Linked DNA regions of Homo sapiens. The protein of the gene in region 2 interacts with the protein of the main gene of each other region in a pairwise test. Each region holds a gene or a part of one and is shown on either strand. Other genes may lie near its edges. The genes, in order: IKBIP, WASHC3, BFSP2 and PELI1.

Region 1 (7,568 bases), 3.4 Mb from region 2:
TACAATTTGATATCTTTCCTAAAATCCTATAATTCTGGAAGGGTTTCTGCCAAAAAATTTTTTTGACCAACCTCTTGCAGAGAAAGTACTAGAATCAGGTCTTACAGATACAAAGGCAACAATGAATTAAAAAACAGTTTAGTGAGACAAGTCAAATTGAATGGTAAAGTGTTTTAAGTATTTGTAAATTATGCTAAGCCTCCGGCACCTCCTAATCTGTATCTGGAATATAGAAGGCCAAGTCATTGACCTCTTTTAGTCTACACTTAGATAACAGCTTTAGAGACTACAGGAAGGCCTAGAAATAATCATTAATTTATTATGTGCTTGCAGCATTATGCTGAAGACATAATACTGAACAAGATACAAAATACTGCCCTTAAGCAGCTTTGTTTAATCGACGAGAAAGACAAGTGTATATGCACTATGACAGGTGAAGAGCTATGGAAGCACTCAGGTGGAGACCCAACCTAGACTTCAGTGATGAAGGAAAGTATTTTAGAAAAAGTAATATCTAATATCTGCTTCCAGTTGCTTGCTCTCTAAATTAGCCTACACACTACTACTAGACTAAGCTTTTAAAAACTGGTATGCCTATCATGGTACACTGTTACAAAACCTTTGATGTTTCCTAATACTTCTAGGATAAAGTCTCAAATTCTCTAACCTCTCCCTATGCTATCCTCCTCTCCTCTTTATTTAGTTACATTGTCCTTACTTCAAGGCTCAGACCGGATCTCAGCTCCTCAGAGCAGCATTTCTTCCATAGCCCTAGCCCTGACAACCTGAATTCCTGTAGCACCTATTACACATATATTTGCCACATATTTGCCTCTTAGCACATACAATTAAAAAATTTTGAGGGTTCACTCTGTGCCAGCCTTGTGTGAGACAGTGGAGACAAATACAGCATAGTCCTTGATTTCACAATTTGATTGGGAGACAGTGTTTAGATCTTCCACATCATATATTCTAGAGTCCCAACAAGATCTACTGAGTACCCTGTGTGAGGTAGTTCCATTATCAGGTACTAGGGAAATGGAGATAAAAGATGCAGTGTATGCTCTAAAGAGGAGTAAAGGAGATAAACTAGCAACCAAAAAAATCACAGTAGATTATAAGTAGCGTCACAAAAGAATTAGCACAGGGGGCAATGGATGCTTTGAGGAGAGATAAAAAGTTAGGAGGGCAATGCGAAAAGGCCTGGAAGTGGCTCCAAAATTGGAATCATTAACAGACTGATTGATGAATTAGCAGGGTGAAGATGTGAAAGCTTCTAAATTTCAAAGGAGAAGAGACCATGTCTTATGCCTCTGTGTAATCCCTACATCTCAGAGTACAAAGAATATGTTTGTTGATGCTTAGGAAGAATGACCCTAAGCCTTCTAGGTCCACCCCAATCAAGACTTAAAGAGTATGCAACAAGAATGACTAACACCACTCTGAAATGTTGTTTAAAATTTATTTTAAGGGTTGGGCATGGTGGCTTACGCCTTAATCCCAACATGTTGGGATGCCAAGGCAGAAGGACTGCTTGAGCCTAGGAGTTTGAGACCAGCCTGGGCACAAAGCAAGACCCTGTCTCTATCAAACAAACAAACAAACAAACAAACAAACAAAATTAGTTGGGCATGGTGGTGTGCGCCTGTAGTCCCAGCTACTTGGGAGGCTGAGGTGGGAGGATTCCTTGAGCCCAAGAGTTCAGGGTTGCAGTGAGCTATGATCATGCCACTGCATTCCATCCTTGGTGACCGGGCAAGACCCTGTCTCAAACATACATACATACACACACACACATTTAAAGAAAACAAACAAAAAAATCCAAAGAAATAAAAACCTCTTTTAAATGTACACATACAGCCATAATACAAGTTCCTTTTAAAATCAATTATGAGAAATACTAACCATTAACATGGTTAGGTTTAGTTGTTTTATTAGCAGTATTTTGAAGAGGCAAGCTTATCCTCACCTAAGGTAATGTCCTGTTTAGGAGGTTCATCAGAGCCTCACTATAATCTGAAAGCAGTATACCCCAAGTAAGTGCAAGATGTTATAGATTTAATCTGCAAATATTTAGTGACTAGTATGCCACAGTAGCTAGCATTTATGGGCCACCAACATATTCTAATCGTTTTTCATTTTTATTTACTAAAAAAATTTTTTTTGTAGAGATGGGGTCTCACCATGTTGCCTGGGCTGGTCTCAAACTGCCAGGCTCAAGTGATGCTCCCAACTTAGCTTCCCAAAGTGCTGAGATTACAGGCATAAGCCACCACACCGGGTCTCATTTTTTCTTAAAGAAAGAGCTAGTAGGGCCAGGTGCGGTGGCTCACACCTGTAATCCCAGCACTTTGGGAGGCTGAGGCGGGTGGACCACCTGAGGTCGGGAGATTGAGACCATCCTGGCTAACACAGTGAAACCCCATGTCTACTAAAAATACAAAAAATTAGCCGGGTATGTTGGCACATGCCTGTAATCCCAGCTACTTGGGAGGCTGAGGCAGGAGAATTGCTTGAACCCAGGAGGCAGAGGTTGCAGTGACCAGATCTCCCCACTGCACTCCAGCCTGGGCAACAAGAGCCTGGGCAAAAAAAAAAAAAAAAAAAAAAAAAAAAAAAAAAAAAGAGCTAGTACTTTATTAGTGCTTGATTGTTTTCAAAGAATTTGTATATAAAGTAAGTCCTCACTTAACGTCATTGGTAGGTTCTTGGAAACTGACTTTAAGTGGAACTATTCAGAGCAGCTCCTCCAACAACGTTGTTTCGATGTCCTTTCATTACAACGTAGATGAGAAAAAAATTGGTTTCATTATACACTTCACTTAAAATCGTAGTTTCCAGGAACCTATTGATGACCAGGAACCTATTGATGACGTTGAGGACTTACTGTATATCTCATCTGATCTTTATAAAAATCTTATTATTTCTCACTTAATAAATGATGAAATAGAGATGAAGATAAGTTATAGTGATTTGTCTAAGGTCACACAGTTGGGATGGGTGTCCATGTCTAGCTGTTTTCCCCTCCATCTGGGTTATGCTGCCCTTTAGGGCCACCTTTGTGAAAAGGGACCTCTTATTAAATTACTCCCAGGGCAGAATGGGAGAAAAAGCTACGAAAAGACTGAATATTTCTTTTTTTTCTTTTCATTTTTTTTTTTGAGACGGAGTTTCGCTCTTGTTGCCCAGGCTGGAGTGCAATGGCATGATCTCGGCTCACCACAACCTCCACCTCCCAGGTTCAAGTAATTCTCCTACCTCAGCCTCCCGAGTAGCTGGGATTACAGGCATGCACCATCATGCCCAGGTAATTTTTTGTACTTTTAGTAGAGATGGGGTTTTTCCATGTTGGTCAGGCTGGTCCTGAACTTCTGACCTCAGGTGATCCACCTGCCTTGGCCTCCCAAAGTGCTGGGATTACAGGTGTGAGCCACCACGCCTGGCCAAGACTGAATATTTTTTGGATTCTATAATGATATTTTAAAAATCTGCTTCAAAAGCTTTTTTTTTGAGATGGAGTCTCACTTTGTTGCCCAGGCTGGAGTGCAGTGGTGCAATCTCGGCTCACTGTGACCTCTGCCTCCCCGGTTTAAGCGATTCTCCTGCCTCAGCCTCCTGAGTAGCTGGGACTACAGACACACGCTACCATGCCCAGCTAATTTTTGTGTTTTTAGTAGAGATGGGGTTTCATCATGTTGGCCAGGCTGGTCTTGAACTCCTGACCTCAGGTGATCCACCCACCTCGGCCCCTCAAAGTGCTGGGATTACAGGTGTGAACCACCGTGCCCAGCCTGGCCAACATGGTGAAACCCCGTCTCTACCAAAAATACAAAAATTAGACGGGTGTGGTGGTACACACCTGTAGTCCCAGCTACTCGGGAGGCTGAGGCAGGAGAATCACTTGAACCCGGGAGGCGGAGGTTGCAGTGAGACAAGATCGAGCCATTGTACTCCAGCCTGGATGAGAAAAGTGAAACTCTGTACCACCCCTGACCTCCCCCACAAAAAAAAAAAGAAAAAAAAAAAGGAGAAATCTTGTTCAAAATAAGTTTTCAATAGCTTTTATTTATATTTATTTATTTATTGAGATGGAGTCTCACTCTGTTGCCCAGGCTGGAGCACAATGGCGTGATCTCAGCTCACTGCAATCTCCACCTCCCAGGTTCAAGTGATTCTCCTGCCTCAGCCTCCCGAGTAGCTGGGATTACAGGCGCCCGCCACCACGCCCAGCTAATTTTTGTATTTTTAGTAGAGATGGGGTTTCACCATGTTGGCCAGGCTGATCTCAAACTCCTGACCTCGTGATCTGCCTGCTTCGGCCTCCCAGTGTGCTGGGATTACAGGCGTGAGCCACCGCGTCCGGCCTTCAATAGCTTTTAATTAAATATGTGAAGTTTTGGCAAGGCACAGTGGCTCACACTTGTAATATCAATTCTTTGGGAGGCAGAGGCAGAAAGGTCATTTGAGGCCAGGAGTTTGATACCAGCCTGGGCAATGTAGCAAGACCCCGTCTCTCCAAAAAATTAAAGAAAAAAAAATTAGCTGGGTGCAGTGGCGTGCCTGTTAGTCCCAGTTACTTGGGAGGCTGAGTTGGGAGGAGTGCTTGAGCCTGGGAGGTTGAGCTGTTATTCCAACACTGCACTCCAGCCTGGATGACAGAGTGAGAGCTGGGATGACAGGGAGAGACTCTATCTGAAAAAAAAAAAAAAAAAAAAAAAAAAAAAATATATATATATATATATATATATATATATATATATGAAGTTTCTTGCCCCTGGGATTTCTTCTAATGGTATGTTAGAGTTCCCCCAACAGCTACAACCAGATTCCAATTTTTTTTTTTTTTTTTTTGGGACAGAGTCTCACTCTGTTGCCCAGGCTGGAGTGCAGTGGTATGATCTCAGCTCACTTCTGAAACCTCTGCCTCCCAGGTTCAAGCAATTCTCATACATCAGCCTCCCAAGTAGCTGGGATTACAGGCATGAACCACCATGCTCAGCTAATATTTTTGTATTTTTAGTAGAGACAGGGTTTCGCCATGTTGGCCAATCTGGTCTCGAACTCCTGACCTCAAGGTGATCCGCCTGCCTTGGCCTCCCAAAGTGCTGGGATTACAGGCATGAGCCACTACGCCTGGCTCAGATTCCAATTTGAGCCCTATGTGAAAATACCAACTCCTTTGCAGCTCCTTCCCCAAATCCCTTACACTCACCATCCATGGAATCCCCTGGCATTTGTGAGGGATACTTAATTTTCCTCCATGGCTTTTCTCTTCTGGAGGATTATATGCTCATCCTGTGCATGGGGCTGCAGGGACTTAGATGCTCCATTTCATCTCTATTTTTACAACATCCTTACCCACCCTGGTGCCAAGCATAGGTCCTTGCTTACCTTGTGACATGAGCAAAGGTTTAGTGAATGAATAAATGAACAAAAAGCCATATTTCCCAATGATAGCTTGGTCCCTGGTACCCAGAATAGGCCTACATGATGCCTTATTGATCACAGCTGACTTTGACTTTCTCCTGAGAGGTGTGGGAGTTACAAAAATGTTTATTTGTCTCACATTTCTAAGAATCACAGTAATAACGCATCTGGTAGAAATCAGCAACTTGAAGGAACACAATATAGACATGGTATTATTTTAATTTTCATTGGAATTCTTATTTGGCTACAGGACAAATAGTTACTTTTAGGCTAGCCGTTCTTTTTTTTTTAATTCTTTTTTTTTTTTTTTTTTTTTTTTGAGACGGATCCTCGCTCTATAGCCCAGGCTACAGTGCAGTGGTGTGATCTTGGCTCACTGCAACCTCCACCTCCCAGGTTCAAGAGATTCTTCTGTCTCAGCCCCCCGAGTAGCTGGGATTACAGGCGTGTGCACCACGCCCAGCTAATTTTTGTATTTTTACTAGAGATGGGGTTTCACCATGTTGGCCAGGCTGGTCTCCTAACTCCTGACCTCAAGTGATTTGCCTGGCTCAGCCTCCCACAGTGCTGGGATTAAAGGCATGAGCCACTACTCCCAGCCTAGGCTAGCCATTCTTAAATGCATGTACATATATCCTTAAAAAGCAAAAAGTAAGGGAAAAAATGGATAGATCTTTTCCCAATAAGTGCTATTCATATTCTAATTTTATGTCCAAAGATCAACCATATTTTCAGATGAGATCGAGCGCATTCAGGGTGGTATGGCTGTAGACATGATCAACCATATTTTCAATGCTCTAGATACCTGACACTTAAGTAGAAAATTAACATCATGCTAATATGAACAAATTGGTCTTTTTCAATACTAGAAATTATCATATTAAAAAATCCTTGCCCCTCAAAATGCAATCTGAGTCAAAATGGCTCAGAGGGAGAATGTCAAGAGGTAGGAAGATCAGTGAGAGTTAAAATAGTGATGGTCTAAAAGGCAGGAAGAAAGAAGTTCTGAGCTGGGATAGAGAAATGATAGTGGGGTAGTAAAATGGGAAAACCGTCCCAGATAAGCCAATTAATGATTACCTTTTCTGAAATTAAACTGATTTTACTTTGAAGTTGTTGGAATTCATTGGTTTCTAGTTTCAGTAACTGGTATTGGTTTTCCACCTTTGCAAATTTTTCTGACTGCTGAAATACAAACCTGGAAAAGAAAAGAAAAATCACTATTCTCCAATTCATATCCATTTAAATCCGAATTTCAAAGGAGAATTATACCCACTTCTGTTAAGAACAACATAAATTCTGGTATGGGTAGCTGTAGGTTTTTTTTTTTTTTTTTTCACACAGGGTCTCACTCTGTCACCCAGGCTGGAATGCAGTGTCACAATCATAGCTCACTGCAGCCTTGAACTCCTGGGCTCAAGTGATCCTCTTACTTCAACCTCCCAAATAGCTAGGACTGTCCATCTCGCTATGTTGCCAAAGGTGGTCTTTAGCCTTTTTTTTTTTTTTTTTGAGATGGAGTCTCACTCTGTCGCCCAGGCTGGAGTGCAGTGGCGCGATCTAGGCTCACTGCAAGCTCCGCCTCCTGGGTTCACGCTATTCTCCTGCCTCAGCCTCCCGAGTAGCTACGACTACAGGCGCCTGCCACCACGCCTGGCTAATTTTTTGTATTTTTAGTAAAGACGGGGTTTCACTGTGTTAGCCAGGATGCTCTCGATCTCCTGACCTTGTGATCCACCTGCCTTGGCCTCCCAAAGTGCTGGGATTACAGGCGTGAGCCACCACGCCCGGTATTTTTTTTTTTTTTTAGATGGAGTTTTGCTCTTGTTGCCCAGGCTGGAGTGCAATGGCACGATCTCGGTTCACTGCAACCTTTGCCTCCTGGGTTCAAGCGATTCTCCTCCTCAGCCTCCCAAGTAGCTGGGATTAAAGGCACCTGCCACCACGCCCCACCAATTTTTTAATATTTTTAGTAGAGATGGGGTTTCACCATGTTGGCTAGGCTGGTTTTGAACTCCTGACCAGTGATCTGCCCGCCTTGGCCTCCCAAAGTGCTAGGATTACAGGCATGAGCCACTGTGCCCAGCCCCAAGGTGGTCTTGAATTCCTGGCCTCAAGTGATCCTCCCCTCAGCCTCCCAA
Region 2 (8,001 bases):
TCTTTTGAAGAACTTCTCAAAAATCTAATTTAGTTTACATAACCATCATTTTCAAAATATAGACAATCCTAGTGTAAGGACTGAGAGCCTGGTCTTTGAAGTCAGACTGTCAGGTTTAACTTTTAGCTCTACCACTCACAAGCTGTGTGATCTTGTGTAAAACTCCCTGTGTCTCAATTATCTCACCTGTAAAGTGGAGATAAGAACATGTACCTAGAAAAGTTGTTGTAAAAATATTTCTATTGATAATACTTCGAAAAAAAAGGGCTTTGTGCAAATTTTGAGTTTCAATTATCTAGGATATGACAAAACTCTTGTCTTTACACTTTAATGTGTGACACAGCTCATTCTTTTTTCTTTCTTTGAACATTCACCACTGAATGTTATTAAAATATGTTTCTTCTATGCAAAAAAATGGGCATATTGTTGGTATTTCAACCTGAAATGGTTTAGCTTTCACTATGAAATAGTTAAGCATTTCAGGTTAGATCTGCGAGACCCATACAAACCTTCTTTTCTGAGTTCATCCTGATATCAATGACACGCATTTGTCGATGTTTGGCTAACTTTGGGGATGACTCTATGGCCATGGAAATAACTAAGGTTAACTTGTCCATATGGTCATTTAATGTGCGACCTTGGACTCTAACTCCCAGGAATTCCTTAAACATTAAAATAAGACACATATTCACATTAAAATAAGACACATATTCATTATAAAGAATAATAATTAAAAAAAAAACCAATGGTAATAAGATCTCAAGCAGCAATACTCATTGAGAACTGTTGACTGATAACCATAGTTAGCACAGTGGCTATGGCCCAAATAGTTTCAAGTGGGTATGGCTGCTAGAGGACTATCTTGAACATGTTCAAGACCGGGTTTCCAAACTAGAGAAATGTTCTAAGAGAAACACAGTTGCTGAAGTCCATAAAGAGACGTAGAAAGTACAAACTAGACATTCTGGTCATATTAAAAAGGGATATCATTTTTTTCTTCCTCATAAATATTTACAGAATATTTCTTAGTTTTATTTTGGTAAATGGACAAAGAAAATATTAACTTCAGGAAAGTTAGTCATGAAAATACACTAGTGTCTCCATAACTTTATAAACAGAAAAAACACATGTAAAAAAATATTAAAAATGAAACCAAAGACATCACTGTTATCAAAATCTTTAAGCTTGCAATCTAAAACAGTCTTCTATTTTTCTTAGTTATTATTTGCAATTTCTGACATCAAAACTGGTATTCCTCATTAGCATTTAAGGTATCTGCAAATAGAAACAGCTGATATTGTCTCTAAAATTTGCTCTGAGACATCTAAAGATTTATATTAGTATTGTATTATCAAATAATAACTAGTAAAATAAATCTGGAATTTTCTATCAAATGAAGTGAACTAGATAACAGCTCAGCTTGTTAACATGTTACTCGCATTATGCGTTTGCCTAGCACAATGAAAGAAATCGCAAACCATGTGTACATTTGAATTAATGGTTCATAATGAACACCATTTTCTTTGCAACTGCAGTAAAATTAAAAACACAACCAGTATCACTTCACAGATACAGAAGTTAAATGGAATCACTCCCAAATGCAATGAAAATTAAGTATGATTAAGAAAGCTGGTATATGCACAGCAAAGTTTATACTACAAATTATTGAGAAATACCAACCTTTGCATCTAAAATATTGAGAGTTGTTTCAATTTGTTGGATACGAAGTGAAAGGTCTGCCAGTTTCTGTAAAAGAAAAATTAGAGACATAAAGACTTTAATTAAAATAAACTGTTAACAATAACTAAGGGCAGATATGAAAATATTAAAAACCATTAAATATTTGTCATATTCTAATACAGTACTGTCTTATTTACATGAGTAGGAATGAGAACTCTTCTATTACGTGTATTATAATGCTTCTCAGTTTCTTTTTTTTTTGGGACGGAGTCTTGCTCTGTCGCCAGGCTGGAGCGCAGTGGTGCGATCTCGGCTCCCTGCAACCCCTGCCCCCTGGGTTCAAGTGATTCTCCTGCCTCAGCCTCCCGAGTGCTGGGACTACAGGCACGTGCCACCACGCCCAGCTAATTTTTGCATTTTTAGTAGAGATAGTGTTTCACCATGTTGGTCAGGATGGTCTTGATCTCTTGACCTCGTGATCTGCCTGCTTGGCCTCCCAAAGTGCTGTGATTACAGGCGTGAGCCACCGCACCCAGTCGCTTCTCAGTTATTTTATAAAATTATATTCACTTATAACAAAGTTGACATTTTCTGCAAACTCATTATCAGAGCAGTAAACAATTGTTGAGACCAGAATATAAACAAACCAGGACAGAGCCTTTTGTTTACTACTGTACCTTTAGTGCCCAGAATAGTACCCTGACACTTAATAGGAGCTTAATAATTATTTGTTGATGAATGAAGAAATTTTTTCATAGAAAATAAAAGAATAAAAATTATTCAAAGACACGCTGCAACAAGGTCTGCCTTTATAAATTACTTAAATGCATCAGCATATACAATTCGTCCCAGATTTAAACATCTGTAGTTTGAAAAATAAAGGGGAATGGAATTGGAAGATGAGTAATTCATTTTGGAAAGAGAAGAGAAAAAACTAGAGTATTAAAATCTACTATCAAAATGCAAGATAAACCAGATAGAAGAGCTTATCATGCTTGTTACTCTGTATAATTAAATTGTCAATGTACCTCTGTGTAAATATACACCTATACAAAGAAAGGTAGCATCATAAAATATGACCATTCAAGTAAAGAACATTTACTTGAAACCTCCTAATCTTAAACATTATATTCAGTCACATAATCCAAGAGCAGTTGCCCAGTTTACAAGCTGGCAGATACACAGCATCCTGATTGTATTCTGGGATATTATTAAGATCCTGACTATTAAGTAGAACTTTACCATCCTGTGAAATGGTCACTTTGCCCACAATTAGAGGGGGCAAAAAACTGAAAGTGGCCACAAAGCAGATAGTGCTTCTTTACAGATCACTTATTTTTAGTTTAGCATCTTGATATCGACAAAGACATAATCTACAAATAAAGTATTAGGATCTAGTTTTCATGGTATCAAAGCTAAGTTTACCCTTGACTTCTAGAATTCATTCACATAAGGCTTTTAGGTAAACACCAATACAGGTTTATAACATGTATTATGAATGAATCCCTCTCCAAATTATAAGTGTATTCCTTAAAATCATAGAAATTTAATTTTGGCAAATCTAATCAGTCTCAATTCACTAGAGAAAAAATTCCACAGCAAATTAATATGTAAAGTGAATGAGAATTTCCAACTTATTTAAAAATGGACATATTGGTTTGATTGAAGGAAACACAAAAGGAAACAAAAAAATGGAATTAAAAATTTTTCTGTTTTAATATACCTATATATTTACTTTTAAGCAATAATCATCAATACTGTAAATATCTGAGTATTTACCTTGCTACATATGGTACAGTGTATATGCAACATATCAATTGAAATCTTACACCAAATCTATAAAGTAGGAACTATTATGCCAATTTTAAAGATGAGAAAATTGAGTCTCATACAAGTAAAATATCCTGAACTCAAACCCTCCAACTCCAGAGGCAATACACTTCACGAGATTTTTTTGAGATAATTTTACACTGTTAAAACATAATGGTAAATTCTTGGGTATTGCACAGAATTTTTGTTATCCAAAGCTAACAAATGATCAATTCGTTTCTCACTAAGATGATTCTGTGCCAAGAGGAAAAGCCTTTTGCTCTTCTGATTCTGAGATGATCATTTACAAAGTGGTTCTGAACTACAGTACATGAACTAGGATGAGAGAAAAAATTCTACCTTTATTTTTATCTACTTCTAGCTTAAATTCAGCATTGTTTAAAAACATAGTTAAAAAAAAAATCACCATAGGCTGGGCACAATGGCTCATGCCTGTAATCCCAGCACTTTGGGAGGCCGAGGCAGGTGTATCATCTGAGGTCAGGATGGTCAACATGGTGAAACCCCAACTCTACTAAAAATACAAAAAAAATTAGCCAAGTGTGGTGGTGTGCGTCTGCAGTCCCAGCTACTCAGGAGGCTGAGGCAGGAGAATCGCTTGAACCTGGAAAGCGGACGTTGCAGTGAGCTGAGATCACGCCACTGCATTCCAGCTTGGGCGACGAGTGAGACTCCGTCTCAAAAGAAAAAAAAAAGAAAAAGAAAAAAAATCACAGTGGTTTTAGGATCTAAGACTGTCACCAATAGAAATCATAGTTTTTTTTTTAAATCACATCACAATTGCTGCAGATTTCCTTATACTTCAAAATTAAGGTTATTAGACATATGAAAGGATTATATAATTTAATGCTTTAATAAAGAACCTACTAGTATGTCATAGTTTTAAATTTTTTTAAGTATATAACTGGTTTCTTTTGTAATCCTATGCATTTTATTCTATCCACCTGAAAACATTAATTTGGTTTCACTAGACTGTCAAAGGGTCCATGGCATGATTAAGAAAGAACTACTTTTCAAAGATAATTCAGTATAATAAATGGTTTTGTATGTTCCAGTGTAATTATTGGTATAACATACCTGAATGTATACTTTTTAAAGAGCCATTGTCAGGTGAAAAGGTATACCTGGGTTCATTTATGGGCTGCTGAAGTTCATTTCTAAGATGTGTATGCTTGTGGCATTTTCCTTATACAATCCCCAGACCACTATAAAACAAGTTTTTCAATGCTAGCTATATTGACATTTGTGGGTGAAATATTCTTTGCTGCAGGGGACTGTCCTGAGCACTACAAGATGGGTAGCAGAATCTCTGGTCTCTATCCACTAAATGCTAGTAGCACTCCCCAGTTATTACAATCAAAGACACCTCTAGACATAGCCATATGTCCCCTGGTTGAGAGCCACTGCTCTAAATTATGGATGACTGTGGATATAACATAAGTAACATAATCGGTGACAGTAGCTGTTCTCACCTCTGAAAGTTTTAGCAAGAGGAAATGGAAAGGTAACAGTCTTTCCCATCCATTTAACCATCGTCTTCATGAAGACTGAAAACAAACTTGAAATGCTATGGTTTGGGATAACAGGGGAATTTACAAAGTCCCTGATATTTGTCAGATAAGCTGAAAGCTTGATTTACTACCCATGTATTTCCAAGGCAGTACATTTTATAAAGTTAAAAAAAAAAGGACAAAAGAAAGAAGGAAATATGGAGTTACTAGTTGAATATGGAAACAAAATAAAATGCTGGTTTTTCATGGTTGTAAAATATCTTGTTTATATATCCATTTCTCTAAAAGAGAAACAGTATTTTAAGATAATGGATCTCTTGGTATACCCCACTGTGTTGCGTGTGCCCCAGAAGCCAGAAAAGGAAGCAATGAATGGTTTTATTAGGTTGTGTCTGATACTTAAGCCCAGCAGTGGTTAAAGATATAAGAGCAAATAAGGATTTAAGCAAAATATTATCTGATTAAAGGTTAAGTCCAATGGCAGGCTAAAAAAATGAATGTAGAAGATAAGCACTAAAGAAACTTTCAGGTTATGTGACAATTCTCAGCACTTTTGCTTGTACCTAAAGATTTTAGAAAAAAGAAAAATTTCAGAATTTAAAAAAATTATTTAAAAATCCAGTATCTTAGGCATGTAATAAGTCTGAGTTTGGCTGAGGGTGCTTGTAATCCTAGTACTTTGGGAGGCCGAAGCAGGCAGATGAGCTCAGGAGTTCAAGACCAGCTTGGGCAACATAGGGAAACCCTGTCTCTACAAAAAATACAAAAAATTAGCCAGGTGTGGTGGCACGCACCTGTAGTTCCAGCTACTTGGGGCGCTGAGGCAGGAGGTCTAGGCTGCAGTGAGCTAAGTTCACTCCACTACACTCCAGCATGGGTGACAAAGTGAGACCCTGTCTGACAAAAAAACAACAAAAAAAGTTTGAATTAAAATAACATTCTGGCCAGGTACAGTGGCTCACGCCTATAATTCCAGCACTTGGGAGGCCGAGGCCGAGGGATCACTTAAGCCCAAGAGTTGGAGACCAGCCTAGATAATGTAGTAAGATGCCATCTCTAACACACACACACACACACACACACACACACACACACACAATTAGCCGGGTGTGGTGACACATGCCTATAGTCCAAGCTTCTAGGGAGGCTGAGGTGGGAGGATCACTTGAGCCCAGGAAGTTGAGGTTGCCCTGAGCTGTGATCACGCCACTGCACTCCAGCCTCGGTGATACAGCAAGACCCCGTCTCGGGGGGAAAAGAAAAGAAAAAAAAATTATTAAACAAACAAACAAAAAACCAAAGTAACACATTTGGCACTCCTGTTTATAAAGTACCTTTGACTTTAAAATTCACTATAAGGTTAAATGCTCAGGTTTCACCTGCAATATGCATAGAGCTTATGTTGCTTCCTGCCAACCCCTCAAAATTTGCAGTCCCAATGGATGACCATAAGATTTTGCTGACTAAAGCAAGAATAAAAATGCTCACTGGGGATTTGTGATGGAAGAGGAGATGACCCTAAGTACCTCTGTAATGTGGGTCTGATTCTACTACTTTCTCTGTCATCTAATCTCTCTTCTACTCTGGTGCCAATCACTGGAAGAGTTACAAAAGTAGCCTAATATGCAGAAAGTTTTTGCAAAGTTGAGTTCTTCACAGAATGCAGTTTTATACTCTTCTCTTTAATGAAGAACTCTAGAAACAGTGCCACTGATGAAGAAAGAACCCTAGCAATTTGTTTCAAACTTAATTCTGGCTTGAGGGTTTATCTGTGACTGAAGTTGTTTAAGGTTGGGTTTGGTTCAAACCAGATCCTGTCGGGGGGTGGGAAAAGTTTTCTTTTTCCTCCCAGTTCACTCTCAGTTCAAAAACTAACAGTTGAGGTTCCTCTTTTGTTGAGAGAAACAGTCAGTTGGTTCTTGTTTGAGGCTTTAAATAAATAAGGACTAGAGGCCTATTAGGCACTATTAACAAAAACATTTCAAAACACCAAAGTGACTTTACCTTGGGAGAAAATGGCACCTTACATTTGAATACATGTATCTTTGGAATTGACATAAAAATATATTACATCAAACAGACATAGCATAGCAAAGAAGTGAATGAGTCTAAAAATAGATTTTAATATAGCTATAAGAAGGTACTTGTACTGCACTCTCTCACTTGAAGTTGACATAAGCATGCTTCTTAATCAGATAAAGCAGTGCAATGTAAGAAAGCAATGAGATATTGACTTTTCCAGTTAAAAAATCAGTGGGAATCCAGTTCTGCTACTTTCTATCTGTGTATGTGCAGCTAATGCAGCTACAACTACTGGGGGCATGCAAAGATATGTTGAATGAATGAATGACTAAGCAAATGATTTAAACTTCTCTACATCTTAGTTTCTGTATCTGTATGAGTGGGATAACTAAACCTCTCTCAAAGGACTGACTGCGATAATTAAATACACATAAAGCACTTAGTATGATGCCCAGCACAGAGGAAGTACACAATAAATATTAGTTGTTATCTCATTGAGCAGTCTCCAGCTGACATGAATATCCAAATTGCTAAAATATATATTGTAGACAATCAGTTACAGTCAACCCTAGATTATCATACATAAAGGAGAAAAAGGTGGGACAACAGCAAGATGGGGGAATAGGACTTTCCAGCACTGATCCTCCCACAGAAACATCCATTTGAAAAACTATTCACGCACGAAAATACATTCTCAAGAGCTAAGGAGACCAGGTGAGAAATTACAGCACTGGGTTTAGCACAAAAGTAAGAAAAAACACACTGAAGAGGGTAAGAAGGACAGTTTTACAGAACTCATGTCACCCTTCCCCCAACTCCAGGCAGCACAGCATGGAGAGAGATACCCTCCAGGTGGGCGAAGGAGAGGCAGTGAGCACAGGACTTTGCCTTGGACCACAACACCAGGCCCACCCCAGCAGAACTCAGTGCTGAGCAAGCCCCCTCAGCCCAGACTCCA
Region 3 (8,001 bases), on a different chromosome or scaffold from region 2:
GGTCTCTAGGACCATTAATTATCTGTTATCTGTCATGAGTCTGTTAAAAAAGGCAATGGACCAAACTCAAATCTATGGCTTCACTTTACCTCTGTGTTGCTCCACTTCTCATCAGGTTGGGTGGGGCGAGGGGAAGTCATTTTTTGAATAACTAGGCTCTATTTGCCATAAAAAAGTGTTTGTAGTGACCTGGCTCAATGATTGGTGGTTAGAAAGAAAGGAAGCTATTGAAACGGGGTAGGGGTTGGAGAAATGGGTGAGTGAAAGGATGTTTTCTAGGCTGGAGAACATTTTGGGAATCCAGAATTGATGAAGACCCTGCTGGGAAGGTTCTTGTTGATACTTGGGGGATAGAGGGAGTATGGTGGGAGAAAGGACAGAAAAGCCTCTCCTATTTTTCTTTTCATAGCTTTTTATAATTCTTATGGTTCTCAAATCTGGCTGCATATTAGAATCATCCAGAGAGCTTTAAAAATCACAAAGTCCCTCTCCTCTGTCTGATTTGGTTGGTCTGGGATGGCGATTTTTGAAAATGCTCTGAAATAATTCTGCTGCGTAGCCAGGATCAAGAACCACTAAATAGTAATCAAGAGCTCAGAAACAGCCTTTTGCCTTAACTCAGACATCTACCTTATTTTCTCTACTTTTCCACATTTTCCTTCCTTGTCACTTTTCATCCTCTGTCTCAAGATTACAAAGTCAGAAATGGGTGGGAGATGGAGAAGGGAAGAACAAACCCTATGCATCCTATTTTCTGGTTAATTCCTGTATTATTTATGAGGTTTAATAAAAGTTGTTTTTCTTCCATGAATATAATGTATACTATTTAACAAAAACTTGAGAAATACTCAAAAACAAAAAAGAAAAAACATCTCAAAGTGTCAGACTGATCCATCACTCAAAGGCAACGACTGCTAATCCCATTTTAGTCTTTTCTTTCTAAAATTTTTTCTCAATGCCTAGTTTCTTTGTTTGAATGCTTTACCCTACTGTATATACCAGGAAGTGGCAAACTGCAGTCCACAGGCCAAATCCATCTCACCGCTTATTTTTGTAAATAAAGTTTTATTGGAACACAGCTATGCTCATTAGCTACCTATTGGCTACAGCTGCTTTTACACTGCAGTGGCAGCGCTGAGGAGTTACAACAGAGGCCATCTGGCCCAAGAAGCCTGAAATATTTACTGTTTGGTCCTTTACAGAGAATATTTTTTGGCTTCTGGCATATACCATTCTGTACTCTCATTTTCTCCTCATTTTACCTCATATTATGAACACATTCCTATTTTATAAATGCTTCATAAACATTAATTCTAATAACTGCCTGATATTTTACTGCACATAGGTAGGTTGTGGCTTAGATTTTCTTCTACTAGTAAATGTGTATGTTTTTTTCACTCTTATAATGCTTCAGTGAGTATATTTGGACACAGATGATTTATTTTTTCAAATATTCTTTTTTTTTTTTTTTTTTTGAGACAGAGTCTTGCTCTGTTGCCCAGGCTGGAGTGCAGTGGCCCAATCTTGGCTCACTACAAGCTCCGCCTCCCAGGTTCACACCATTCTCCTGCCTCAGCCTCCCGAGTAGCGGGGACTACAGGCACCTGCCAATGCGTCCGGCTAATTTTTTGTATTTTTAGTAGAGACAGTGTTTCACCCTGTTAGCCAGGATGGTATCGATCTCCTGACCTCATGATCCGCCCGCCTTGGCCTCCCAAAGTGCTGGGATTACAGGCGTGAGCTACCACGCCCGGCCTCAATTATTCTTTCAGGATTGTATTCAGATTATTCAGTTGGTAGCTAGGGGCATTTTAACACTCTTGGTGCATATTACTAAATTTCTTATTCAAAGGCAGTGCACTAGTTTATGCTCTTCAGTAATACAGTAGAGAACCTACTTCTCCACATACTTGCCAGCATTTTTACCATTTTAAACATTTTCTACTTTTAGATAGGTAAACAAAAAGCTATTATTTTAATTTTCATTTCTTCTGTTTCTAATGAGGTTGAACTTGTTACTAAACCGTTGTTATTTCTTCGTCTGCACATTGACTAGTTTGCAGCTCAGCGTGGCCTCCTTCTGCATAGGGCAGAGTGGAGGATGCTGGTCCTGCCTCTCACCTTAGCTTGGAGCAGGGCTCCTGCCTCCACCCGGTTCTTTTCAACATCTCTCTCCCACTGAATTCTGATCGTCTCAAGGATGTCGTCCAGACCAGTGCCAATGGGAGCATCCATTTGTTCCAGCTCACACCCTGCCAACTGTTTGTGCAGCAGCTTCACATCCTGAAAACAACAATATACATCTTAGATGAGTTACGGGGGGAAATAAATGGCATAGAATTCTAGCCAGCAGAAAACCAGCTCTGTGGGCAATTCTTTTCTCATTCCACAACTGCCAGACACAGGCTTCACAGAGACTGGGAAAGTCCCTGACCTTCTTCCCAGCGTAAGTGTAATTTCTCTTTTCCCAAGGATGCATTTCTCCCTCTCTCCCTCCCTTCCTTCCTTCCTTCCTTTCCTTCTCTCTCTTTCTTTCTTCCTCCCTCCTTCCCTCCCCCTCCCTCCCTCCTTCCTTCCTTCCTTCCTTCCTTCCTTCCTTCCTTTCCTTCTTTCCTTCTTTCTCTTTCTCTCTCTCTTTCTCTCTTTCTTTCCGTCTGTCTTCCTCTCTCTCTCTCCTTCCTTCCTTCCTTCTTTTTTTTGACAGGGTCTCACTCTGTCACCCAGGCTGGAGTGCAGTGACATGATCTCAGCTCATTGCAGCCTCCATCTCTTGGGCTCAAACAGTCCTCCCACCTCAGTCTCCTGAGTAGCTGAGACTACAGGCACAGGCACGGCACACACCACCATGCCCAGCTAATTTTTGTATTTTTAGTGGAGACAGGGTTTCACCATGTTGCCCAGGCTGGTCTTGAACTCCTGGGCTCAAGTGATCCCCTGCCTTGGCCTCTCAAAGTGCTGGGATTACAGGCTTGAACCACCATGCCTAGCACCAAGGATGCATTTCTTAGGTTGGTCTCCACAAGCCCAGGCCCAAAGCAGAAATCAAAATAAAACAAACAAACAAACAAACAAACAAACAAACAAAAAACCACATGTATACATATGTAACTAACCTGCACATTGTGCACATGTACCCTAAAACTTAAAGTAAAATAAAACAAAAACAAAAACAAAAACAAAGTAAGCAACAACAGCACAGGGCATTTATGCATAAAGCCAGACAAGGATGAAAGAGACTTAAAAGATAACTTTGGCATCTCTAAATGGTTACTGTTGGAGAGTAGTCTTAAATCACTGAGCTAAGAACAAGAAGAAATGGGCTTACAGTTGCTGGTTAGCTTAAGTTGGTCTCAAGAAAGAACTTCCCAATGTGAGCATCGTTAAGTGGGTTTTGACTCTTTCAACTTGAAGCAGCCTAAATCTTGGATCAGACAGTAATATGTGTGAGGTGGTTTAGAATTGCTGAAGTCTCGCAGGGAACTAGACCCCATAACTGTTGGAGGTCCTCTTCAGTTCTGTCACTCAATAATCTGACCCAGTTTTGTTAATGAGTAGATGTCAACCACAGCTTGGATCTACCCTCAGAGTTGTTTTGTTTGTATAATACAGTGTTGAAAAAAAAACCTGACATAGAATGCATTGAGGAGGGGTTGCTCCCTCTAATTTAACACAAGTTCCCTCATTTGCTAGTGCCAAGACTGGCTGCCTTCCCCTGTTTCTGTACCACACTGGTTCCTGAAGCTATTTGAGTTTGAGACTGCTGGGGTAACCTGACCCACTTCAAGGATCTGAAAGTATTTTACAGGTATGTTCCCTGCAGTCCTGGGCACGCAATGTGGAGAGTCAGAAATGAGCTACTGTGGCCTTGTTATGAAGCACAGGCAGACAGATGTGAACTTCTGGTCTTGTGGCCAACCCAGCAACCCCAGCCCCCTCCTACCTCTTCATAGTTTCTTGATAGAGAGCCAAGTTCTTCTTTCAGACTTTCTATTTGACTCTCCAGGTCCATTTTAGTCAAATTAGCCTCATCAATGACTTTATACAGAGAGTTAATTTCCTCTTCTGCCGCCTTTCGAAATGGCTGCTCATTTTCATATCTGCAGATAAAGGAACTTAATTAGCATAACTGAGTAGCCCAAAAGAAAAAGAATCAGATTATAAATGTTACCAACAGGCCAATTATGTGATAGTTAGACAATGAATGGTAAAAGTCACTGTTTCAATAGATTTGAGGGCACTGTTAGTGCAGTTGTCACACATTGATTTATTAAAATGAAGGCAATTGCAGCCAACTTCTGATAACCTGGCTTCCCGGGCTACCAGCCTCATGGGAGTGTTGCAACACAGAACTCCAGGGAAAACTCAGGAGTTCAGATCCAGGTTAGGGGATCCGGCATCTTCATCGCTATCCTGATTGTCCTCCTTTTCAACCAAGGATCCTTTAACAAACATTACTGACAACCTGCTAAGCACCAGGGTGGGGACCCCAAAATAAGAAATGTGGTTTCTGTCTCCAAAGCACCCATGTTAAAAGTGTCCATCTCCAGGAGAGTGGCTGCAAACCCAGATGCCTTCAGGGACTGAGTGGGAGGTGTAGCTGAGCACGGTTCTCAAGCCTGGATGCACATTAAGTCACCTGGTGAGCTCTAAAACTGCTGAAGCCTGGACCCAACCCCTGGGGACTCTGATTTAATTAGTCTATGGCTTGTGCACTGCACTGACATTTTTAAGTGCCCAGGTAATTCTGATATGCCCAGGTTGGAGAATCATTACTGTAAGCTAGTAGTTCTCAAAGTATTTGAGTCCCAGGACCAGCAGGATCAGCATCCCTGGGAACTTGTTAGGAATATAAATTTGGGGCCCTTCTCCAGACCCATTGAGTCAGAAATTCAACAGGGTGGGGCGCAGCAATCTCTGTTTTCTATATGGCCCCTGGGTGATTCTGAGCATTCCAGAGTTTGAGAACCCTGCTCTAAACCAACTGACAGTGGGCAAAATCTTTGAGCCCTTGGGGCCTACTTTATGTTTACAAGGAGGGGTGTGAGCTGGATAATCATGGCTCTGTTATCCTGCCAGCTTCCCCTGAGGTAGAAGGTGGATGATGCAGGCTCCAGAACAGCATTATCCACACTTGCCTAGGAGTCTAGGGATGTGGAGGGACTGTCGCCTCTGCTGTAAGACATTACCTCTCTTTAAAGTCATCTGCTCCGGCCTGGATAGTTTCTGTCTGCAGCATGAGCCGGGCATTTTCCAAGACTGCCTCACCCACCTAGAGCGATCACACACACCAAAGGAGACAAGGTCACTGGGAGCGTCAAGATCACTTACCACCATGACTTGTGTTAGGCACAGAGGCTCTGGGGGACCTCAGAGAACCTTTCTTACAGCAAATATTTGTGGAATTAAGATGTCCCTCTCTTTGGACAATGGTCAGGGTGGGGGGATATAAATAATAAGGCATAAAATCTGGATATCTTCTAAGAGTTTTTAGAGTGGGATTTTTGGCACAAAAAGACTATTCAAAGGCAGACTTGTTCATAGCCTCTGTCACAGTGACAAGCTTTCATCTCTCCAGGGCAGAGTCCGGCTCCTTAGATGAAGTTTCACTGGCTTTGCCTAGCAGCTCTTAAAATTTCTGGTCATGGATGCCTTTGGAAGGCTGGTGAAAGCTCTAGATGAGTGCTGAGAGAGCTTCCTGTGACGGTGGAAATGCTCTGTCTGCACTGTCCAGCATGGTGGCCACCCGTGGCTACCGTATTGGGCAGCGTGGCTCTAGAGTTTCGTCTCCCCCAAAACATACACGTGAACATAAACATTGTGGATATAGTTTAGGGGTTTCATGGAGCCTTGAGGAGTGGTTTTTCAAACTTGAATCCCCAAGCCTCTCAGGATCTCCCACAGGTAGGGAATGAGGGGTGTCCTCCCTTCAACCCAAGAAACTCCTTTATATATATATATATATATATATATATATATATATATATATATATATATATATATATATATATATATATAAATGGTGAGCTGAAGGCTCTGATAGGGGGAGCCTGCAGGGTGGAGCCAAATCCCAGCTATGGGAGAAGAAAATAACTGCTTTCCCCTTGCTCCAGTGTGGCTGTCTTATTTTGTTTCATTTCATTGAATTACTTTTTTTGTTTTTTCTTTGAGACAGAGTCTTGCTTTGTTGCCCAGGCTGGAGTGCAGTGGCACAATATCTGCTCACTGCAACCTCTGCCTCCCAGATTCAAGATATTCTCGTGCCTCAGCCTCCTGAGTAGCTGGGATTACAGGCATGTGCCACTGCGCCCAGCTAATTTTTGTATTTTTAATAGAGATGGGGTTTCACCATGTTGGCCAGGCTGGTCTCGAACTCCTGACCTCAAATTATCCACCCATCTTGGCCTCCCAGAGTCCTGGGGTTACAGGTGTAAGCCACCAAACCCTGCCATTTTCATTGAATTCCCCACTAGCAAAGCTAATCATTTCTGTTCCAGCTTGGCCTGGGGCACACTGGGGAGCAGGCAGACTAGGGTGTCTCCCTTTCCCAGTTCTTAATCACTCCTGTCTCTCACCTCTGGTGCCTGGAGTTCTCCTTCTGGTTGATAAAGAACTTGCAACTCATTCACATTTAAGTATCAAAGGACTAATATTGGCTTAAAATAGTGATTTATATCCTTCTTTTAAGGTAACAATTCCTACCCTCCAAAATTAAAGCTTATAGAAAACCTATGTACAGTTGTCCTTTGGTATCTATGGGGTCTTGGTTCCAGTCCCCCACGGATGCTCAAGTCTCTTATATAAAATGATGTAGTATTTGCATATAACCTACACACACATCCTTCCATATACTTTAAATCATCTCAAGATTACTTATGATACCCAATACAATGGAAATGCTATGTACATAGTTGTTATTTATTGTGTTATTTAGAAAATAATGACAAGAAAAAAGCCCACATGTTCAGTATAAACGCAATCATCTATTTTTTAAAAAATATTTTGATCTACAGTTGGTTGAATCCATGGATGTGGAACCCATGGATGTGAAGGACTGACTGTACTTTGCACTAGTGGTTCTCAAAGTGTGGGCCCTGGACCAGTGGCAGCAGCATCACCTGGGAACTTGTGAGAAATGCACTTTTCAGCTCCTGTTTCAGATGGACCTATCAGAATCTCTGCAGGTGGGTCCCAACAATTTGTGTCTCAGCAAGCTTTCCAGGGGCTTATGATGCATACTCAACCTTGAGAACCCCGGTTTCACATGGCCCTGCCCCCAGGCCTGCTCTAGCTGCCTCCCTGCTGCACCTGGAATCCCTCTGTGCCTTTGCACCTGCTGCCTCCATTGAGAGCAACTTGTTTCACTACCTCCCCACTCCCAGCCCTCAGTCTGAGAAAGCCTGCTCCAGTATAATGCTCATTTCAAACACGGCTTCCCCATGAAACTTTTCTATTTATTCACTCATTCATTCTTGCCTTAATTTCTTCAGCACATAATTACTGTTTATGCCAGGCTCTGTCCTGTTTGTTGAGAAACCAGCCGCTACTGTAGGAGATGAGGTTAAAAAGGTAGACAAGACCAGACCATAGAGGGAAGGCCTTGGGCACAATGGAAAGGAGTTGAGATTTACTGGGAAGCCTTTGAAAGGGCTTGAGCAGGTTACAGAGGTGATCTGTGCACTAAGTGGACCCTCTGACTACTGTGGGAAGAGAGGATTGGAGGAGGCAGGAGAAGATGCCAAAGAACCAGTCGGGAGGCTCTTGCGGTGGTCCAGGGAGCCCATTTTATTAATGATGGTGGCCTGGACGAACGATGTGATCATAGGGTAGGTGGAAAAATGTGGACTAGTTTAAGATGCATTTGGGGGATAGAACAGTCGGTTCTTTGTGGTGCAGTAGTTATGGGGAGAGTGAGGGAAAACAATTAGGGGTGACCGCTCCGTTTCATCCTGAGCTGTAGAGAGCATGGTGGGGCCTTTGCTGATTCTCTTCCTCCCTCATTGG
Region 4 (8,001 bases), on a different chromosome or scaffold from region 2:
AATCTAGGGGGAAAGGAAGCAGGGAACAGGGACAGTTTTGAGGCTGGAGGAGGAAGTGATTATAAAATGGCCTGTAATTGTGGCTGGCAAGGAAGAATGTTTTAAAGCTGAGAAGAGAGTTTACTCAATGACTGCCATATATAGAAACTACATTGACCCTTTATAAAAAATAAAATACTTTGTATTGGAGAAAGCCCTTGGTAATGTTGCTAGCCTTGCTGTAAGTCCAAAGTACAGCCCCTTAGCTAATAATTATTTTAGCTATTTTAGGCTTTGTATTGCCCCCAGACCCTCTGTCGATTCCTCACTGCCCCTTCACTACTGTCCTCTGAGTTGCATGACTCATCCCACTTCTGGATCTTGCTCTTTAGTCCCACATTGCGTTCCTGTAGTTCAAAGCTCTTTTCTAAGCAGCAACAGCATGAAACCTTGTCCAGCTTCACTTCTAGAGGGTTGAGAAGAAAAATTATCTGCATTTTAAGACACCAAGTACCAGACACAGAGACAATTACTGTTGCTAATGATTAACTGAGGAACCCATAGGCTAAGACTGGCGGTTTAAAACCCTAAGCTAAATATTAAACTATTCTTCAAATGACTCTCAAATTTCCTGCTAGAAGAATTTAATCTGGAAAAGTTTTTGGTAGTTAAGAGCTGTTTGTCATTGATACCATTAAAATCTATGTGATTTGAAGTTCTAATACTGTAGTTACTATGCTAAATTTATGATCTTTTAAAGCTTTGTTTCTGAGAAAAGAATTTTAAGTCTCAAAGGGCCTTAGATGATCTTATCTGTCATTTTTACAGACAAGGAAACTAAGGCCCAGGATGGTTCAGTGACTTGCCCAAGGTCACACAGCTAGCAGTGCTGAACAAGCACCGGATTCTAGGATTCCTAACATCCAGTCAAGCTCAGTAACTCCATATGATTTCCCCAGTTTCTCTTACTATCTCAACTGAAACAACGCATTCTCACTTTAACAACCTGACTCTCAAACATACCGCAATATCTAGAGTTGCTTTTTAGGCAAAAGGAGGGAAACAGTAGGGGGAAAATAAAATTAGCAATTTTCTTTTTTCTCATTTTTTTCGAGACGGAGTCTTGCTCTGTTGCCCAGGTTGGAGTGCAGTGGCGCTGATCTCAGCTCACTGCAACCTCCTCCTCCTGGGTTCAAGTGATTCTCCTGCCCCAGCCTCCCAAGTAGCTGGGATTACAGACATGCACTATCATGCCCAGCTAATTTTTGTATTTTTAGTGAAGATGGGGTTTCACCATGTTGGCCAGGCTGGTCTCGAACTCCTGAGCTCAGGTGATCTGCCCACCTAGGCCTCCCACCTGTAAGCTGGGATTACAGGTATAAGCTACTGCACCTGGCCTAAAATGAGCAATTTTCTAGTTTCTGAGATCTCTAGTTAGGAAAGGCTAATACTGTGTCTCCATTTTGATAGTTAATGGCAAGTTTAAGTGGAATAAATTGAAATAATTTGGAATAACAGAATCATCTATTCCTCAATCTTCAGATTCTATTTCTGTGAGTTACATGGATGAAATTACGTTAGGAGCTAAGAAGTAGCTAGGTCCTGGGCTTCAGAGGCATTATGCTGTCACCATACACATATACAACTCCTTTAACCCAAATGTACAGCACAAAGCAATAACTACTGTAGAGAGGCAAAAGAATAAATGAAGACTAACCTACATGAAATGACTTAAAGCAGGGAAGGGAAAGGGAATTTTTGGTAAAGTCAGCTGAGGCAAAACATGGGATAGGGAAGACAAATGGAATGACTGTGACAGTGGATAAATAACATTTTTCATTTCATTTCATTTTTTTTTTTTTGAGACAGAGTCTTACTCTGTTGCCCAGGCTGGAGTGCAGTGGCGCGATCTCAGCTCACTGCAACCTCTGCCTCCAGGGTTCAAGCAATTTTCCTGCCTCAATCTCCCAAGTAACTGGGATTACAGGCATGCCTCATCACGCCCGGCTAATTTTTGTGTTTTTAGTAGAGATGGGGTTTCACCATGTTGGCCAGGCTGGTCTCGAATTCCTGGCCTCAGGTAATCTGCCTGTCTTGGCCTCCCAAAGTGCTGGGATTACAGGCGTGAGCCACCATGCCCGGACTTTCCATTTCATCTTTGAGAAACTCTGCCCTTTCTGTGGGTAAGGGTGAGACAAAGCTTATGTCATATTTGAGTGCTTTTAAAAGATGGCATGAATATGAGAAGTAAAAGAGTTTCTTGATTTGGTAACATTACCTGTAGCTTTAAATTCTTTTTGGAAGCAGGTAAGATATAAATTCCAAAAAAAAAAGTACTTTTAGCCTAGATGCCAAAGTTAGCATATATTATTAAACTGTGTGTGTCATCAAATGGAGAAACCTTACCCTAAGACAATGAGTTCACCATATTTTACTGGTGCTTTAGATGGATGATTTTCTTGATCAGGAGAAAACATGAGCTTGGCTGTCTTTCTCAAATCTTTGTTCACTGGTCAGGAGCCTTGGGACACCTTTTGCATTATTTCCTAGAGGGGAAAAGTTTTCATTAATAATGTGAACAATTCGTTTCAGTTTAAATAAAGATGTTATTTTTCAGCAGTCCTCTTGAACACAATATTATGCAAACCATCACAAGGTATATACATTTTATGGGACATTTTGCCCAATAATGATTATATATTTTACAAAACTGTTTAAAGGAATCAAAAATGCAAATTTGAAGACTTCCACTTACAGAAGCATAGAGCAGACATACTTTTCCCTTTTATTTCTGCTAAGTATAACTAAAGACCCTGGACATTATATACAAAACATGAGAAGACTGTGAAAAGTGGAGAGAAGGCAGACTAAGTAAGGGACCTCAGGACCCATGGAATGACACGGTGGTGTAAATTCTCTGGGTTTTCTTTTTGCCTAATATATCCCAGACTTGGAGCTAAAGAAGGCAGCAACCTGGAAATGCCAACTGGCACAGACAAAAAGAGCCACAACAAAAGCTTGCTCTCTCTAGCCAAAGAAACAAGAAAGGGACAGCCTGGCAAGACAGAAAACTTTTGACAGTAACTGCTCCACTCCAGCCAAACCCAGAAAACAGTTTTGCCCCACCACCACCCACACCAACGAAAGCTAAGTGAGGAGCCTTGACTTCCAGCTCATAAACCATAGTGAGGAGCTCCAATGCCCTATTAGGGCAATGTAAAAGTAGGCCAACTAGGGAGCCAGGACTTTCACCCTGATGGCCGGGCATGCCCCAGCACCTACCTCAGTAGGTGTCAGCTAGACTTCCACCCCCACCCAGCAATAACAAGAAGGATCCTCTTCCTGAGGCATCAGTAGAGGCTGAGTAGGGACCCTTGACTTCTATGTCCACCTGGCAGTAATGAGGCACCCCCTATGACCTTGCCAAAGCAGTGTCAATAAAAGCCAGTGGAAACAGAAGGTTTAGATAATATCCAGAGCCTAGGAACATAATATGAAAATATCTAGTTTTAACAGAAAATCATTCATCCTAGCAAGAACAAGATTTAAAACAATGCAAAAGATAGGCTGGGTGCAGTGGTTCACGCCTGTAATCCCAGCACTTTGGGAGGTCGAGGCAGGCGGATCACTTGAGGTTGGGAGTTTGAGACCAGCCTGACCAACATGGATAAACCTGGTCTCTACTAAAAATACAAAATTAGCCGGGCGTGGTGGCACATGCCTGTAATCCCAGCTACTAAGGAGGTTGAGGCAGGAGAACCACTTGAACCCGGGAGGAGGAGGTTGCAGTGAGCCGAGATCAGTGCCACTGCACTCCAACCTGGGCAACAGAGCAAGACTCCATCTCAAAACAAAAACAGAAACAAAAACAAAAACAATGCAAAAGATAATCAATAGGTGCCAAAACTTAGATGACAGAATTACCTGACAAAGATTTAAAAGCAGCTATGATAAAACTGAACAGTGGAAATTACTCGATCTGAATAGAGAGAAAATAGGAAAAACAAAATGAAACAAAAAACAGAGCCTTATAGACCCGTGCGTGAGACTATAGCAAAATCTAACACGTGTGTCACTGGACACACATGTCAAAAAGACAGAAGAAAGAGTAAAGCTGAAAAAATAAAGAGGCTGGGAGCAGTGGCTCACGCCTGTAATTCCAGCACTTTGGGAAGCGGAGGCGGGAAGATCACTTGATGTCAGGAGTTCGAGACCAGCCTGGGCAACATGGTGAAACCCCGTCTCTACTAAAAATACAAAAATTAGCCAGGCATGGTGGTGTGCCTTGTAGTCCTAGCTACTTGGGAGGCTAAAGTGGGAGTAATCGCTTGAACCCGGGAGGCAGAGCTTGCAGTGAGCCAAAATTGCGCCACTGCACTCCAGCCTGGGCGACAGAGTGAGACTCCGTCTCAAGAAAAAAAAAAAAAAAAAAAAAGAAAAAATATCCTGGAAGCAGAGAGAGAGAGAGAACACTGCATTTATAACGACAATTAGACTGACAGTGGAGTTCTCATCAGAAACCACAGAACCCAGAAGATAGTGGCATAGTATTTTTCAGGTGCTGACAAAAATGGAAGGGAAGTCAAGACATTCTCAGACGAGGAAAAATTGAGAGAATTTGTTACCAGCAGACCCACTATAAATAAAGAATGGCTAGAGGAAATTAACTAAACAGAAAATAAATAAATAAAAGAACCTTAAAATATGAGATGTAAAAACACGGTAGCAAAAATATGAGTAAATACAATCGACTTTCCTTCTCTTGAATCTTCTGAATTTTGTCTGATGGTGAAAGTGAAAACTATAATACAGTTAGATGTAGTTCTAAATGTGTGTAAAGGAAATAGTTCAGAAAGGCCAAGGTGGGAAGATCACTTGAGGTCAGGAGTTCAAGACCAGCCTGGCCAACATGGTGAAACCCCATCTCCACTAAGAATACAAAAATTAGCAGGGCGTGGTGGCACGTGCCTGTAGTCCTAGCTACTCGGGAGGCTGAGGCAGGAGGATCACTTGAACCTGGAGGCAGAGGTTGCAGTGAACCCAGATCGCACCACTGCACTCCAGCCTGGGTGACAGAGCAAGACTCCATTTCAAAATATATATATATATATGTATTTGACACAAGTATAACAAAAAATTAACACTTCTGATCAGCCGGAAAATCACACAATAAATAATCCCCAAAATATTATCATGTCTTTTTCATCCTCAGTTTAATGGGATCAAGTATTTCCTGCATTTATTTCTCTCCCTAGTTCCTGATAGACCTGTTACAAAGGTTTCACAGCAAAACTCCTACTAGCTAGCCCATAAAAGTCTCCTCATTTTATACCTCCACCAACAGATTTCATAGGAATCTCATGAATGAAAAAGGTCTACTTGTCTTTTTCTACAGTACAATGAAATACAGCCTGTGTAGTGGCACTTTTGGTGAGAAGGCAACAGGGAATGTATGTAGCCCAATGAATAAGAACACGTCAAAGGAAAAGTCAATGAATAAAACAAATCATTCTGACCCCTACTAATCCCTTGGAAGTGACATACACATTTAGACCAGTCATTCACACTAACACACAACTACTATCATCAATAAATTCAAAAAATTATTTTAAAAAATGCTTCAGAAATATTTTAAGAAAAACATTTCCATCATTCAAATACACTAAAAACACCTCTCGTCACCCTAGATATATTTGCTTTTGCTGAAGAGATTTTAATTCATTACGGTATTTAAAAGGTTACAGAAACCAATATATTGCTATTTCACCATAACTGTGATACATCTGAGTTGTGAGGCAATCAGATTCCTTATTTAGAAAAATAAACTTATGCTAAGCTAACTAAAACCTTCAAGGTAAAAACTGAAGTTTCAAGAACAATTAAATCAACCAAAGAATAATTTTGGTTCCATATAATAAGATCTTCTGATATACATGAAATCATACTTTAGTATATAAACATGTATTCATGCCCTCTCATTTCCCCTCTAAGAAGCATTTCATTTAAAAAAGTTATACAGAAGCTTAACTAGAGGCATTAGCTGTGCTTTTTCTGTTTAGACAATTAAGGAACTGACATCAAACATGAAAACAATGCTTTGACACATTTCTGACGAAGAACAGCAATAATTAAAAATTTAATAACAATTAAATTTAAATTAATTTTAAATTAAATTTTAATAACGTTGCTTTGTTTTGAATTCCTATTTAGAGTTACTATTTAAAGGATATAATGGTTTTCTATTTATAGTAGCAAAAAATTTCCTTTAAAATAAGCTTATTTAAAGGAGTCAATTTAAATTGTATTAAATAGAATTAGTAAGTGCACAGATATGGCAAACATCTGAAAGTGTAAATGCCCGTATTTGGCTGACATTAGTATATCACATGGCTAGCAAGTATTAGCCTGTGTTCTAGTTCTAGCTGTCTTTGAACAAAGCAATCTGTTTCCTCATCTCTGAAAATGAAGGGACTAAAGTGGAATAAAGGGAATTTGGGAGCTGGAAAAAATATAAGCGACCATTTGGTCCTGACATAAGAATTTACAAGTAACGTGCATAACACTATAGATTTAGTTCTATTGCGTCTATAGCAAAAGAACAATTTTTTTGCTTAGACAAGAAACTAAAAAACAAGAGTACGGCTGGCATATACCCTCCATATAATTTCTAGAGCCCTTGGTCAAATTAGCCAAGAAAAACAATATATTTCCAATCAGACATATTCTTACTCTGCTTAGATCTCTTAGAAGGCCTTATCTGGGGATATTTTATCAGTGACATCAAAGTTTCAATCACAGGAACACATTCAATCTTGGCTTCTACTTCTGTATTTGATAATCTAAACCCAAAATAAAACACTTTTGTAGTACCAGTTATTTATATACATAAATGACCCAAGATAGTTTTCAAAATTTAAAAATGGCATATAATCAATCAATATACAACTGGCCTTATTAAACTGCAAATAAAATGCTGTGACAGCTATTCTTCCTGGAACTTTTTTTTTTATGTGTTCTCTGAAGAAAGATTCATGATCTTCCCAAAGGTTTATACTCTTTAACAAAGACCAGTACCTAGACAATGCTTTCCTACTCACTGTCTTTATATATTCTCTCTATATTTTAAAATCTGAGTAAAAGAATTCTTCAAAATGAATTCCTAGGCTGGGCATGGTGGCTCATGCCCGTAATCCCAGCACTTTGGGAGGCCAAGGTGAGAGGATCACTTGAGGCCAGGAGTTTGAGACCAGCCTGCGCAACATAGTAAGACTCCCGTCTCTACAAAAGATTTAAAAAAAAAAAAGTAAAAACAGAAAACATTAGCCAAATGTCATGGCATGCACCTATAGCCCCAGCTACTCAGAAAGCTGAGGTGGGAGGATCACTTGTGCCCAGGAGTTTGAGGCTACAGTGAGCTGTGATCCTCCAGCCTGGGTGACGGAGAGAAACTCTGTCTCAAAAAAAAAGAAAAAAAAAAAAAAATTCCTGAAGTCATGTACTTGAGAACTTTAAATGAGTATGTACATAAAAAACATCCGAATGTCTCGATTACTGGCTTCATTTGTTGGTCTTCAATTAAGTTAGTTTGACCTCATGTATTCAGCCCTATCCCAATGTTATCTAGCACCAAGAACATGAAATAGCACCATTAATTCTACTCAAGACTAGAAGAAATGCTAAAGAAAATCTTCCTAATAAAACTGTCTTCTATTTTATCTATTACTTTGAAACTTTGCTTGATACTCGAAAGCATGTTGCTCTCATTAGCAGGAACTAAACTTCCAGAGTTAAAAAAAAATTTTAAAATAAACATATTCTGGAATAGTGTTATTTTCTTTGTGGGCTGGGAGAACATGAAAAGTTACTCATAAAATATGTATTTATTAGGAATAGTATTATTAATTTGACTGTTAAACATTCTAATCATTTCCTTTTTAAGGGCCAGTGAAATACAATTATTTTCATATCAAGTCTTCCCAAAGGAAAGACTTTGTATAATATCTGTCAGTTTCACCTAAAGAA

What was found.
Region 1: the proteins of WASHC3 (region 2) and IKBIP interact in binary tests that used the Homo sapiens proteins (3 or more experiments, as listed by UniProt).
Region 3: the proteins of WASHC3 (region 2) and BFSP2 interact in binary tests that used the Homo sapiens proteins (3 or more experiments, as listed by UniProt).
Region 4: the proteins of WASHC3 (region 2) and PELI1 interact in binary tests that used the Homo sapiens proteins (3 or more experiments, as listed by UniProt).

Annotation. Positions count from the first base shown.
Region 1 is NC_000012.12:98,627,789-98,635,356, forward strand, and holds part of IKBIP (inhibitor of nuclear factor kappa-B kinase-interacting protein), read right to left. Parts: intron 6,626-7,568; coding exon 6,508-6,625; intron 1-6,507. UniProt on the Homo sapiens protein: Target of p53/TP53 with pro-apoptotic function.
Region 2 is NC_000012.12:102,044,374-102,052,374, forward strand, and holds part of WASHC3 (WASH complex subunit 3), read right to left. Parts: intron 1,747-8,001; coding exon 1,681-1,746; intron 1-1,680. UniProt on the Homo sapiens protein: Acts as a component of the WASH core complex that functions as a nucleation-promoting factor (NPF) at the surface of endosomes, where it recruits and activates the Arp2/3 complex to induce actin polymerization, playing a key role in the fission of tubules that serve as transport intermediates during endosome sorting.
Region 3 is NC_000003.12:133,444,585-133,452,585, reverse strand, and holds part of BFSP2 (phakinin), read right to left. Parts: intron 7,182-8,001; exon of another isoform or gene 7,011-7,181; intron 5,270-7,010; coding exon 5,187-5,269; intron 4,098-5,186; coding exon 3,941-4,097; intron 3,806-3,940; exon of another isoform or gene 3,691-3,805; intron 2,284-3,690; coding exon 2,122-2,283; intron 1-2,121.
Region 4 is NC_000002.12:64,105,855-64,113,855, forward strand, and holds part of PELI1 (E3 ubiquitin-protein ligase pellino homolog 1), read right to left. Parts: intron 6,819-8,001; exon of another isoform or gene 6,709-6,818; intron 2,526-6,708; 5' UTR 2,457-2,525; coding exon 2,386-2,456; intron 1-2,385. UniProt on the Homo sapiens protein: E3 ubiquitin ligase catalyzing the covalent attachment of ubiquitin moieties onto substrate proteins. Involved in the TLR and IL-1 signaling pathways via interaction with the complex containing IRAK kinases and TRAF6.